Linked DNA regions of Homo sapiens. The protein of the gene in region 1 purifies or fractionates together with the protein of each later gene. This does not show direct contact. Each region holds a gene or a part of one and is shown in the gene's direction. Other genes may lie near its edges. The genes, in order: TSPAN14, BCAM and TFRC.

Region 1 (3,648 bases):
CCATACCAGCTGCAATCCTCCTTAGGCGCTGCATACCGTAAGGCACAGCTTCTTCCCCCCGGCTCATGACTCACCATCTGACGCTATTCCTATCCCCTTCCTCCCCGGGACCTTTTCCCCTTCCTCCCTGGGACCTTTTCCCCTTCCTGTTTAAGAAGCCAGGGCTGCCTGGAGGAAGCTTTGTCAGATCTAGTGGAATGTGACCTCCCTGGAATATGTGCCCAGGGGTTTGTCTAAGCAGTTCCAGGCTATGGCCTTTACTCCATCTGGTCCCCATCCCTCTTATCTCTCTCATGTGTGGCTGCACCTGGACGCTTGGACCATAGCTGTCACAGCCCCCTGGGGAGGAACCCACTCCTTGGCCATGTCAGCCTGTGCAATGCAAGGCTCTTGTTTGATCTGTGTGCTGACAGAAAGCCCAGCTTCCTTAAGAACTTTTCATGTGGAACACTTTGGTTTTGAGAAGAAAATAAATCAGAAACCATTAAAAATCTATGATTCACTCTCATTATTAACCAAAACTTGTTCACCTTTATTTCATGTATTATGGGATCCAGCAAAACCCATTTATGGGACCAAAGACCCTGCCTGTATTGTTATTACTAATGTGTATTAGTCTGTGAAAGTCACCAAATCCCCGCCATGTTTTGATGCCTCTCCTTTCTTTTCTGTTCAGTGCCACCGTCCTTTTTTCATTTTCACGTAGCCTTGGCTTGCCTGGTCTCAGCATGCTAGGTTGCGGTTCATCCCTGCATTGCCTTAAAAACATAGTTTTCTGCATTGACTTCTTTTTCTTTTAAAAATAAAACTTCTGGCCGGGCGCGGTGACTCACGCCTGTAATCCCAGCACTTTGGGAGGCTGAGGCGGGTGGATCACAAGGTCAGGAGATCGAGACCATCCTGGCTAACATGGTGAAACCCCATCTCTACTAAAAATACAAAAAATTAGTGGGGTGTGGCGGTGGGCACCTGTAGTCCCAGCTACTCGGGAGGCTGAGGCAGGAGAATGGTGTGAACCCGGGAGGCGGAACTGGCAGTGAGCCGAGATCACGCCACTGCAGTCCAGCCTGGTCAACAGAGCAAGACTCCGTCTCAAAAAAAAGATAAAATAAATAAATTAAAACAAAACAAAACAAAACTTCCCAGGGGAGGGATTCAGTAAATTACAGAGCTTCCTTGGAGTGAAATTTCAGGTAATCACTAAAGCAAGTGGAACCGTGGAGGTGTGGGGGAGACAATTTTACCTGAGAAGTAAGCAAAACAAAATAACCAACCAGAAATCACTGTTGTCATTTGTTGTGATTATTGCCATAACCATGTCAGCTGTAAGGGCAAATGCAAAGAAGTTTTTTAGGGGAAAAGACACTGTCAACTTCACAATGATGCTTTCAGTGTTTGGATTTTACACACTTTTTAGTCAAATAAGGATTTTCTTTGTAGCCACACCAGATGCGAGGAAGGGGAGGGCAGAGGCCCCAGGTGTGGGGCAGAGCTTTGATTGTGTTACCTTTCACCTTCATCGGACCTCTTTTCCTCAGGAGCAGACACTTAGCAGCTGTTTTTTGTAAAGGGGTGAAAAGGGGAATTCACTTGCAAGTTTCTCAGGGAGGAAGAACACTGCACACTAGGAAGTGTTCTCTTGTGGCAAGTAGAGGACCACACCAAGGTGCCGAGGGGGCCACAAAGGAGAGGACGCCACTCTCCTGTCTGAGGAGGCTGGAAGGAGGCGTCTCCTTTGAGGAGGCTGGGAAGAAGAGCAAGCTCCCTGCTAAGGAGGGCCAGGGCTGGGTATGTTGTGCCTGGCAGTGGGGCCAGAGGGCTCCACTGAGCCAGCCATGTGGGTTGGACAGAGGAGGCACCGTGGCCCGGAGATACCTTCACTGCCATTTCCTTTTTGTTATTATTTTCTTTAACACATCAAAAGGGCAGGTCCTCTCTCTCTCTCTCTCTCTCTCTCTCTCTCTCTCTCTCTCTCTCTCTCTCTCTCTCTCTCCCCTTTTTTCTTTCTCTCCTTTTCTCTTTCTCTCTCTCTTTCCTTTCTTTCTTTCTGATTGGGGGTGGGGGTCTTGCTGTGTTGCCCAGACTTGTTTCCAACTCCTGGGCTCAAACCATCTTCCCACCTCAACCTCCCGAGTCACTGAGGTTACAGGCCTGAGCTACTACGCCTAGCTGTTTTCTTCTTAAAGGGCTGCCTGGGTTGCCAGCTTAGCATCTCTGCACATGGGAGGTAGGGGGCGGGCCTTGATTTCTCTGCATGGTAGATGCCGGCAGACTTAGCCTGGCATCACTATGAATGATGCCCTATGCTGGGCAGCCATGGCCCTGTCTTGGAGCCCCTAACAGTTCTGGCTTTTGTGGTTGCAGAACCAGTGCTGTGGCGCATATGGCCCTGAAGACTGGGACCTCAACGTCTACTTCAATTGCAGCGGTGCCAGCTACAGCCGAGAGAAGTGCGGGGTCCCCTTCTCCTGCTGCGTGCCAGATCCTGCGGTGAGTTGGCTTGTGCTGGGGCACAGGGAGCCCGCCCTTCCTGAAGCCCAGAAGCTTTCCTGACTCCTCCAGTGCTCTAGGATACTTCTCTGTCATGGAGGTCTGAGGAGCAGGTGTGCTTTCTCCACACCCTCCTCAAGGCTGCCTCAGCTCTGAAATCCGATATGTGTACATTCTAGGAACACTGCTTGCATGACCCACCCTGGCCTTGGTGTTCTGGGTGAGGCAGGAGAAAAACAGTATTATTTCTACCTGGAGGGCTGTCACTTGCAGCTGGCCAAGAGCTATGAGTGAAATAAGGCCCGCTTATCCCTCTTCCCTGTCCTTTTTCTGGAGCAGATTCCTAGAACTCAACAGTGCACGGGGGCTGTGGGTACACATCATTAACTGGGGAACAGTAGTGGAGAATTATTTTCTTTCTTTTTCTCTTTCTTTTATTTTTGAGACAGGGTCTTGCTGTGTCGCCCAGGCTGGAGTGTAGTGGCATGATCTTGGCTCACTGGAACCTCTGTCTCCTGGGTTCAAGCGATTCTCCTGCCTCAGCCTCCTGAGTAGCTGGGATTACAGGTGCACGCCACCACACCCGGCTAATTATTTTCTGTTTGTTGTTGTTGTTGTTGTTGTTGTTGTTTGGTTTTATTTTAGAGACAGTGTCTCACTCTGTCACTCAGGCTGGAGTGCAGTGGTGCGATCTCAGCTCACTGTACAACCATTGCTTCCCCGGGCTCAAGCAATTCTCCAGCCTCAACCTCCCAAGTAGCTGGGACCACAGGCTTGAGCACCACACCTGGCTAATTTTTGTATTTTTTGTAGAGATGGGGTTTCACCATGTTGCCCCGGCTGGTCTTAAACTCCTGGGCTCAAAGCGATCTGCCCATCTTAGCCTCCCAAAGTGCTGGGATTACAGGTGTGGGCCGCTGTGCCTGTCCTGTCCTTTCTTTACCTATTGGCATTCCCAATCCAAGGCCAACGTCCTTGGGTTCCAGAAGCTGGGTTCTTGGGGTGAACTGTGAAGGAGCTCTGAATTTTGCCTGAACTGAGCCTGAGTAGAACTGGGCCAGTTGCCAGCTCTCGGTGCAGTTATGCAAAGCCTGGTCCTGGGTTACAGGCTTTGAGAAGGCAGAGCATCACCACTATTATATGGGCAAGTTCTGCAGC
Region 2 (3,648 bases), on another chromosome or scaffold:
TTTCGTAACAGTAGTGTATCTACAGGTGATATCACCAGTGAGAGAGAGCAGGAGAGGGGATTATTTTAGGTGGCAGGTGTTGCAGTCTGCTTTCCTGAGAAGCAGATTCTGACTTGGATGTTTTCAGGCAAGAAGTTTATGGGAAGTACCCTGGGTTCCGCACCTCTTGGGTCTAGGGAGGTAAAGGAAGCAAGATTTGGCAAGGTGAGAAGTTGGACTGAAGTCTAAGGAAGGTCTCAGGCTGGGTGCAGTGGTTCATGCCTATAATCCCAGCACTTTGAGAGGCTGAGGCAGGAGGATTGTATGAGCCTAGGAGTTTGAGGCCAGCCTGGGCAACAGAGGGAGACCCCATTTGCACACACACACACACAAATTAAAAATTAGCCAGGCATAGTGGCACACACCTGTAGTCCCAGCTACTCGGAGGCCCAGGTGGGAGGATCCCTTGAGTCTGGAAGGTTGAAACTGCAGTGAGCCAAGATTGTGCCACTGCACTCCAGCCTGAGCGACAGAGAAAGACCCCGTCTCAGGAAAAATAAAAATAAAAAAGTAGGCCGGGCCCCGTGGCTCATGCCTGTAATCCCAACACTTTGGGAGGCCGAGGTGGGTGGATCACCTGAGGTCAGGAGTTAGAGACCAGCCTGGCCAACATAGTGAAACCCCCTCTGTACTAAAAGTTAGCCGGGTGTGGTGGCATGCACCTGTAATCCCAGCCACTCAGGAGCCTGAGGCAGGAGAATCGCTTGAACCCAGGAAGCGGAGATTGCAGTGAACTGAGATCGTGCCATTGCACTCCAGCCTGGGCAACAGAGTGAGACTCCATCTCAGAAACAAATAAAAGAAAGAAAGAGGGCCTCAGTCAGCCCCACGGGGTACTTGGAATCCAGGATGGCCCTTCACAGTTGTCCCCAGTTGGGGTGAGGGGGCTGGGCCTTAATAACCTCTACATCAACCAGTCCTCAGAGGTGTGCTGGCCTTAGGCAAGGGGCTCTCAGCAGCTGAGGCAGCTCCCAGAGAGGGGTGACAGCTGCAGGCTGACAGCTGTCATCCTTCTTAGCAGCTGGTGGAATAAGTCCTTCCGTGCTGTAGGAAAGATCTGGGTGTCCACAATAGGGGAGGTCAGGGAAGCCTCTGAGAAGAGACATTTAAGTGAGACTCAGAAAAGCAGACAGCAGCCAGGCACAGTGGCTCACACCTGTAATCCCAGCACTTTGGGAGGCCGAGGCAGGTGGATCACCTGAGGTCAGGAGTTCGAGACCAGCCTGGCCAACATGGTGAAACCCCATCTCTACTAAAAATATAAAAATTAGCCAGGCATGATGGCTGGTGCCTGTAATCCCAGCTACCCAGGAGACTGAGGCAGGAGAATCGCTTGATCCTGGGAGGCGGAGGTTGCAGTGAGCTGAGATCGTGCCACTGAACTCCAGCCTGGGTGACAGAGCAAGAGTCTGTCTCAAAGAAAAAAGAAATTGGCCGGGCACGGTGGCTCACACCTGTAATCCCAGCACTTTTGGGAGGCAGAGGCGGGCAGATCATGAGGTCAGGAGTTTGAGACCATCCTGGCTAACACGGTGAAATCCCGTCTCTACTAAAAATACAAAAAATTAGCTGGGCGTGGTGGCAGGTGCCTGTAGTCCCAGGTACTCGGGAGGCTGAGGCAGGAGAATGGCATGAACCCAGGAGGCAGAGCTTGCAGTGAGCTGAGATCCCGCCACTGCACTCTAGCCTGGGCGACAGAGCCAAACTCTCTCAAAAAAAAATAATAAGAAGAAGAAATGCAGAGAGCTACAAAAAGAGCACTGCAAGTAGAGTGAGCAAGTGCAAAGGCCCTGAGGCAGGCCCCAACTTGGTCTACTCAAGAAAAACAGCAAGAGAACGGGGTAGCTGGGAGCACAGGAGGAATGGGGAAGAGTGGGAGATGGTTCAAGAGGTGGGTGAGGGCCAGACCAGGCAGCATCTTTTAGGCACCCTCAAGAAGTTTGGCCTCGATGCCAAGGGTACTGGGGAGCCACTGCAGGGTTTTATGCAGAGGGGAGGGATGACCAGTGGGTGGTTGGTTTTTTTTGTTTTTTTTTTTTTGAGTCAGAGTCTCACTCTGTCACCCAGGCTGGAGCGCAGTGGCACAATCTCGGCTCACTGCAACCTCCACCTCCCAGGTTCAAGCGATTCTCCTGCCTCAGCCTCCCAAGTAGCTGGGACTATAGGCATGCACCACTATGCCCAGCTAGCTTTTGGATTTTTAGTAGAGATGGGGTTTCACCATGTGACCAGGGTGGTCTCGAACTCCTGACATCAGGTGATGCACCCGCCTCGGCCTCCCAAAGTGCTGGGGTTATAGGCATGAGCCACCGTGCCCGGCCTGACCAGTGGATGTTTTAAAGAGGTCCCTCTAGCTGCTCAGTGGAGGATGGACAAGAGGGAGGAGCAGGCTAGTGAAGAGGTGGTTGGGACAGTCAAACCTGGGGCCAGAGGTGGCAGGAAGCCAGAGGATTTGTCCTGGGAGCAGACCAGATAAAGACTTGCTGAGGCCAGGAGCAGGGGCTCACGCCTGTGATCCTAGCACTTTTGGGAGGTCAAGACAGGAGGATCACTTGAGGCCAGGAGTTTGAGACCCAGCCTGGCCAACATAGCAACACCTTGTCTCTATTCAAAAACAAAACTTTGCAGAAAAGATGTTTGGGGGTAACAGGGAGGTTACCCCACAGGTTGGGGTTTGAGCAAAAGGTTTGTGTGCTAAAGTCACAGAAGGGACACCTTCCACACCTAAGGTTATTCATTAACCTTGGGCTCAGATGTCAGCTCTGAAGAAAAGTAATTGACTTGGGCATGTCAATGTTGGGGTTAGACTGCTAGATTTTTGGTTGGAGAGCCTGGATGGGAGAATGGAGATTTCATGGAGATGGGGTAAACCAGGAGGATTACTTGCTGTTCTCTGCTTCCAACTGTCCATTCATGTTTGCACCCCCGACCGCCCCTGGAGAGCCCCTAATTGAGTGGGTGGCGGTCTGGGACGAGTGACAGACTGTCCCCCACTGCAGATCTGGACCCCCTGGAGCTCAGCGAGGGGAAGGTGCTTTCCTTACCTCTAAACAGCAGTGCAGTCGTGAACTGCTCCGTGCACGGCCTGCCCACCCCTGCCCTACGCTGGACCAAGGTGAGAGGGAGAGGAGCCCCCTCGGGCCCTGCACTCGCACCCTCCTCTCTCCCCTCACTCCTCGCCCTCTCACAGCGTCCTCCTCCTCCTCTGCCCTTCCCAGGACTCCACTCCCCTGGGCGATGGCCCCATGCTGTCGCTCAGTTCTATCACCTTCGATTCCAATGGCACCTACGTATGTGAGGCCTCCCTGCCCACAGTCCCGGTCCTCAGCCGCACCCAGAACTTCACGCTGCTGGTCCAAGGTTCAGGGGGCAGGGAGGGGGTGGGCTTGGATGGGGACAGTGTGGGGTGTGGGACCTGGACAAACAGGACGAGTTCCTGAGTCCCTGGCTGGGGACTCCATCTTCTGCTCGATGCCTCTCTTCTCTCTCTCTCTCCTCTCCCTTCACTTTCTTCCCATCCCCACCACCCACAGGCTCGCCAGAGCTAAAGACAGCGGAAATAGAGCCCAAGGCAGATGGCAGCTGGAGGGAAGGAGACGAAGTCACACT
Region 3 (3,648 bases), on another chromosome or scaffold:
TTCCATCTCGTAGTGATCTGCGCATCTAAAAGTCAAATATTCTATTAAACGAAACTGATAAGCAGGGTGAGGTGGTGCATACCCGTAGCCCCAGCTACTTCTGCTGAGGCAGGAGGATTGCTGGAGTCCAGCCCAGGCAACATAGCAAAATCCCATCTCTAAATAAATTAATAAAACTAATATTAAAGTAGCTTCCAGATTGTTTTATGGTACTAGGAGTTGATTTTTAACAGATCTCTTAATTGAAGTAAATCACTGACAACCGAATCTTTTTATATCTTTTTTATTTTTATTTTTATTTTATTTTTTTTGAGAGATGAAGTCTCGCTCTTGTCCCCCAGGCTGGAATGCAATGACATGATCTCGGCTCACTGCAACCTCCACCTCCCGGCTTTAAGCGATTCTCCTGCCTCGGCTCCCCAGGTAGCTGGGATTACAGGCGTGTGCCACCATGCCCAGATAGTTTTTGTGTTTTTAGTAGAAGCCGGGGTTTTACCATGTTGGCCAGGCTGAAGTGCAGTGGCGAGATCTCGGCTCACTGTAAGATGCGCCTCCCGGGTTCACGCCATTCTCCTGCCTAAGCCTCCCGAGTAGCTGGGACTACAGGTGCCGGCCACCACGCCCGGCTAATTTTTTGTATTTTTAGTAGAGCCGGGGTTTTACCATGTTGGCCAGGCTGGTCTTGAACTCCTGACCTCAGGTGATCCACCCACCTCGGCCTCCCAAAGTGCTGGGATCACAGGCATGAGCCACCACGCCCGGCATCTTATGTCTTTCTTGAAACTAATTGTAACTGTTGAAAATGGAACTTACCAGGTGGAAATAACTAAATCCTGAAGTACCTTGAACCAAAATGTTTTCCCCTATAGGGACATTTTCCCCCAAAAGGAGAATTGAACTGGAAACAATATAGTACATAGGATTATATAATTATGTTCAATTTCTTAATGAGAATGGTTTTCTTACATGCTGGGCTCAAATATGAGTGTATATCACAGTCCATAGAGCTTGGAACCCCTGTGCAAGGTGCTTTCGGAGTCTTGAGCTTATCTGCGAGTTCCTTTTATCAGAATCTTACTTAACGCACGTTAAATTAGAAAGGCATACAAAAGAATGTCCTTAGAAATAAAACTTCTCATAGCGAATAATGTCTGTTTCAGGAAATGGGCCTGAGTTTACAGTGGCTGTATTCTGCTCGTGGAGACTTCTTCCGTGCTACTTCCAGACTAACAACAGATTTCGGGAATGCTGAGAAAACAGACAGATTTGTCATGAAGAAACTCAATGATCGTGTCATGAGAGTAAGTGAACTTTTGGGAAAGGAGGAACTAAAGTATGTGTAAAATAACCGATAAATCTTACACTTCTGCAAAGTGGACAAACTCTAGGAGTCTAGAATTCCTTTAAGAAGGGAGCATTAATGGTTTAGCTGTCATTTTCTGTTTCTGCTGTCTAATTCAGAACTTAGTCAAACCTAGTCTTTTTGGAAGAGACTTGCTGTAAAACTTCCATGTATGCTCCAATGGGGAAAAGAATCTGAACACATTTAAAGTTTTCCTTTGTAAAATGAATCAGTTTCCTTTAAAAAAATTTTTTTTTTTTTTGAGACAGAGTTTCACTGTTGTTGCCCAAGCTGGAGTGCAATGGCACGGTCTCGGCTCACTGCACCCTCCACCTCCCAGGTTCAAGTGATTCTCCTGCCTTAGCCTCCCGAGTTGCTGTGATTACAGGTGCCCAACACCACGCCCGGCTCATTTTTTGTATTTTTAGTAGAAACGGAGTTTCACCATGTTAGCCAGGCCGGTCTCGAACTCCCAACCTCAAGTGATCCACCTGCCTTGGCCTCCCAAAGTGCTGGTATTACAAGCGTGAGCCGCTGTGCCTAGCCTCCTTTAGAATTTTAACCTTAGAAGATTAGCATTAGCCTGGTTCTCAGCATTCTTTTTTCCTTACTCTGCTATAGAAAGTCTGATCAGCTGGCTGGGTACAGTGGCTCATGCCTGTAATTCCAGTACTTTGGGAGGCCGAGGCAAGCGGATCACCTGAGGTCAGGAGTTCAAGACCAGCCTGACCAACATGGAGAAACCCCATCTCTACTAAAAATACAAAAATTAGCTGGGCGTGGTGGTGCATGCCTGTAATTCCAGCTGCTCAGGAGGCTGAGGCAGGAGAATTACTTGAACCCGGGAGGTGGAGGTTGCAGTGAGCTGAGATCGCGCCATTGTACTCCAGCCTGGGCAACAAGAGCGAAACTCTGTCTCAACAACAACAAAAAGCCGGGCACGGTGGCTCACACCTGTAATCCCAGCATGAATTGCTTGAACTCGGGAGGTGGAGGGTACCAGTGAGCCGAGATAGCGCTGTTGCACTCCAGTCTGGGCAACAAGAGCGAAACTCTGTGTCAAAAAAAAAAAAAAAAAAAAAAAGTCTGATCGGCATTCTTAAATTTGGGACATTTTACATTTGAAGTGAACTGTTGTTTTACTACAAAAGTCACAGGGCTGTGTAAATTGCCTTGTGTGTTGTTTTCGTAGGTGGAGTATCACTTCCTCTCTCCCTACGTATCTCCAAAAGAGTCTCCTTTCCGACATGTCTTCTGGGGCTCCGGCTCTCACACGCTGCCAGCTTTACTGGAGAACTTGAAACTGCGTAAACAAAATAACGGTGCTTTTAATGAAACGCTGTTCAGAAACCAGTTGGCTCTAGCTACTTGGACTATTCAGGGAGCTGCAAATGCCCTCTCTGGTGACGTTTGGGACATTGACAATGAGTTTTAAATGTGATACCCATAGCTTCCATGAGAACAGCAGGGTAGTCTGGTTTCTAGACTTGTGCTGATCGTGCTAAATTTTCAGTAGGGCTACAAAACCTGATGTTAAAATTCCATCCCATCATCTTGGTACTACTAGATGTCTTTAGGCAGCAGCTTTTAATACAGGGTAGATAACCTGTACTTCAAGTTAAAGTGAATAACCACTTAAAAAATGTCCATGATGGAATATTCCCCTATCTCTAGAATTTTAAGTGCTTTGTAATGGGAACTGCCTCTTTCCTGTTGTTGTTAATGAAAATGTCAGAAACCAGTTATGTGAATGATCTCTCTGAATCCTAAGGGCTGGTCTCTGCTGAAGGTTGTAAGTGGTCGCTTACTTTGAGTGATCCTCCAACTTCATTTGATGCTAAATAGGAGATACCAGGTTGAAAGACCTTCTCCAAATGAGATCTAAGCCTTTCCATAAGGAATGTAGCTGGTTTCCTCATTCCTGAAAGAAACAGTTAACTTTCAGAAGAGATGGGCTTGTTTTCTTGCCAATGAGGTCTGAAATGGAGGTCCTTCTGCTGGATAAAATGAGGTTCAACTGTTGATTGCAGGAATAAGGCCTTAATATGTTAACCTCAGTGTCATTTATGAAAAGAGGGGACCAGAAGCCAAAGACTTAGTATATTTTCTTTTCCTCTGTCCCTTCCCCCATAAGCCTCCATTTAGTTCTTTGTTATTTTTGTTTCTTCCAAAGCACATTGAAAGAGAACCAGTTTCAGGTGTTTAGTTGCAGACTCAGTTTGTCAGACTTTAAAGAATAATATGCTGCCAAATTTTGGCCAAAGTGTTAATCTTAGGGGAGAGCTTTCTGTCCTTTTGGCACTGAG

Evidence for each region.
Region 2: the proteins of TSPAN14 (region 1) and BCAM purify together in Homo sapiens (co-immunoprecipitation; one large-scale study listed by IntAct). This does not show direct contact.
Region 3: the proteins of TSPAN14 (region 1) and TFRC purify together in Homo sapiens (co-immunoprecipitation; one large-scale study listed by IntAct). This does not show direct contact.

What each region holds. Positions count from the first base shown.
Region 1 is NC_000010.11:80,509,780-80,513,427, forward strand, and holds part of TSPAN14 (tetraspanin-14), read left to right. Parts: intron 1-2,364; coding exon 2,365-2,490; intron 2,491-3,648. UniProt on the Homo sapiens protein: Part of TspanC8 subgroup, composed of 6 members that interact with the transmembrane metalloprotease ADAM10.
Region 2 is NC_000019.10:44,815,484-44,819,131, forward strand, and holds part of BCAM (basal cell adhesion molecule isoform 1 precursor), read left to right. Parts: intron 1-3,038; coding exon 3,039-3,154; intron 3,155-3,257; coding exon 3,258-3,399; intron 3,400-3,572; coding exon 3,573-3,648. UniProt on the Homo sapiens protein: Transmembrane glycoprotein that functions as both a receptor and an adhesion molecule playing a crucial role in cell adhesion, motility, migration and invasion.
Region 3 is NC_000003.12:196,051,071-196,054,718, reverse strand, and holds part of TFRC (transferrin receptor protein 1), read left to right. Parts: intron 1-1,160; coding exon 1,161-1,301; intron 1,302-2,534; coding exon 2,535-2,777; 3' UTR 2,778-3,648. UniProt on the Homo sapiens protein: Cellular uptake of iron occurs via receptor-mediated endocytosis of ligand-occupied transferrin receptor into specialized endosomes. Endosomal acidification leads to iron release.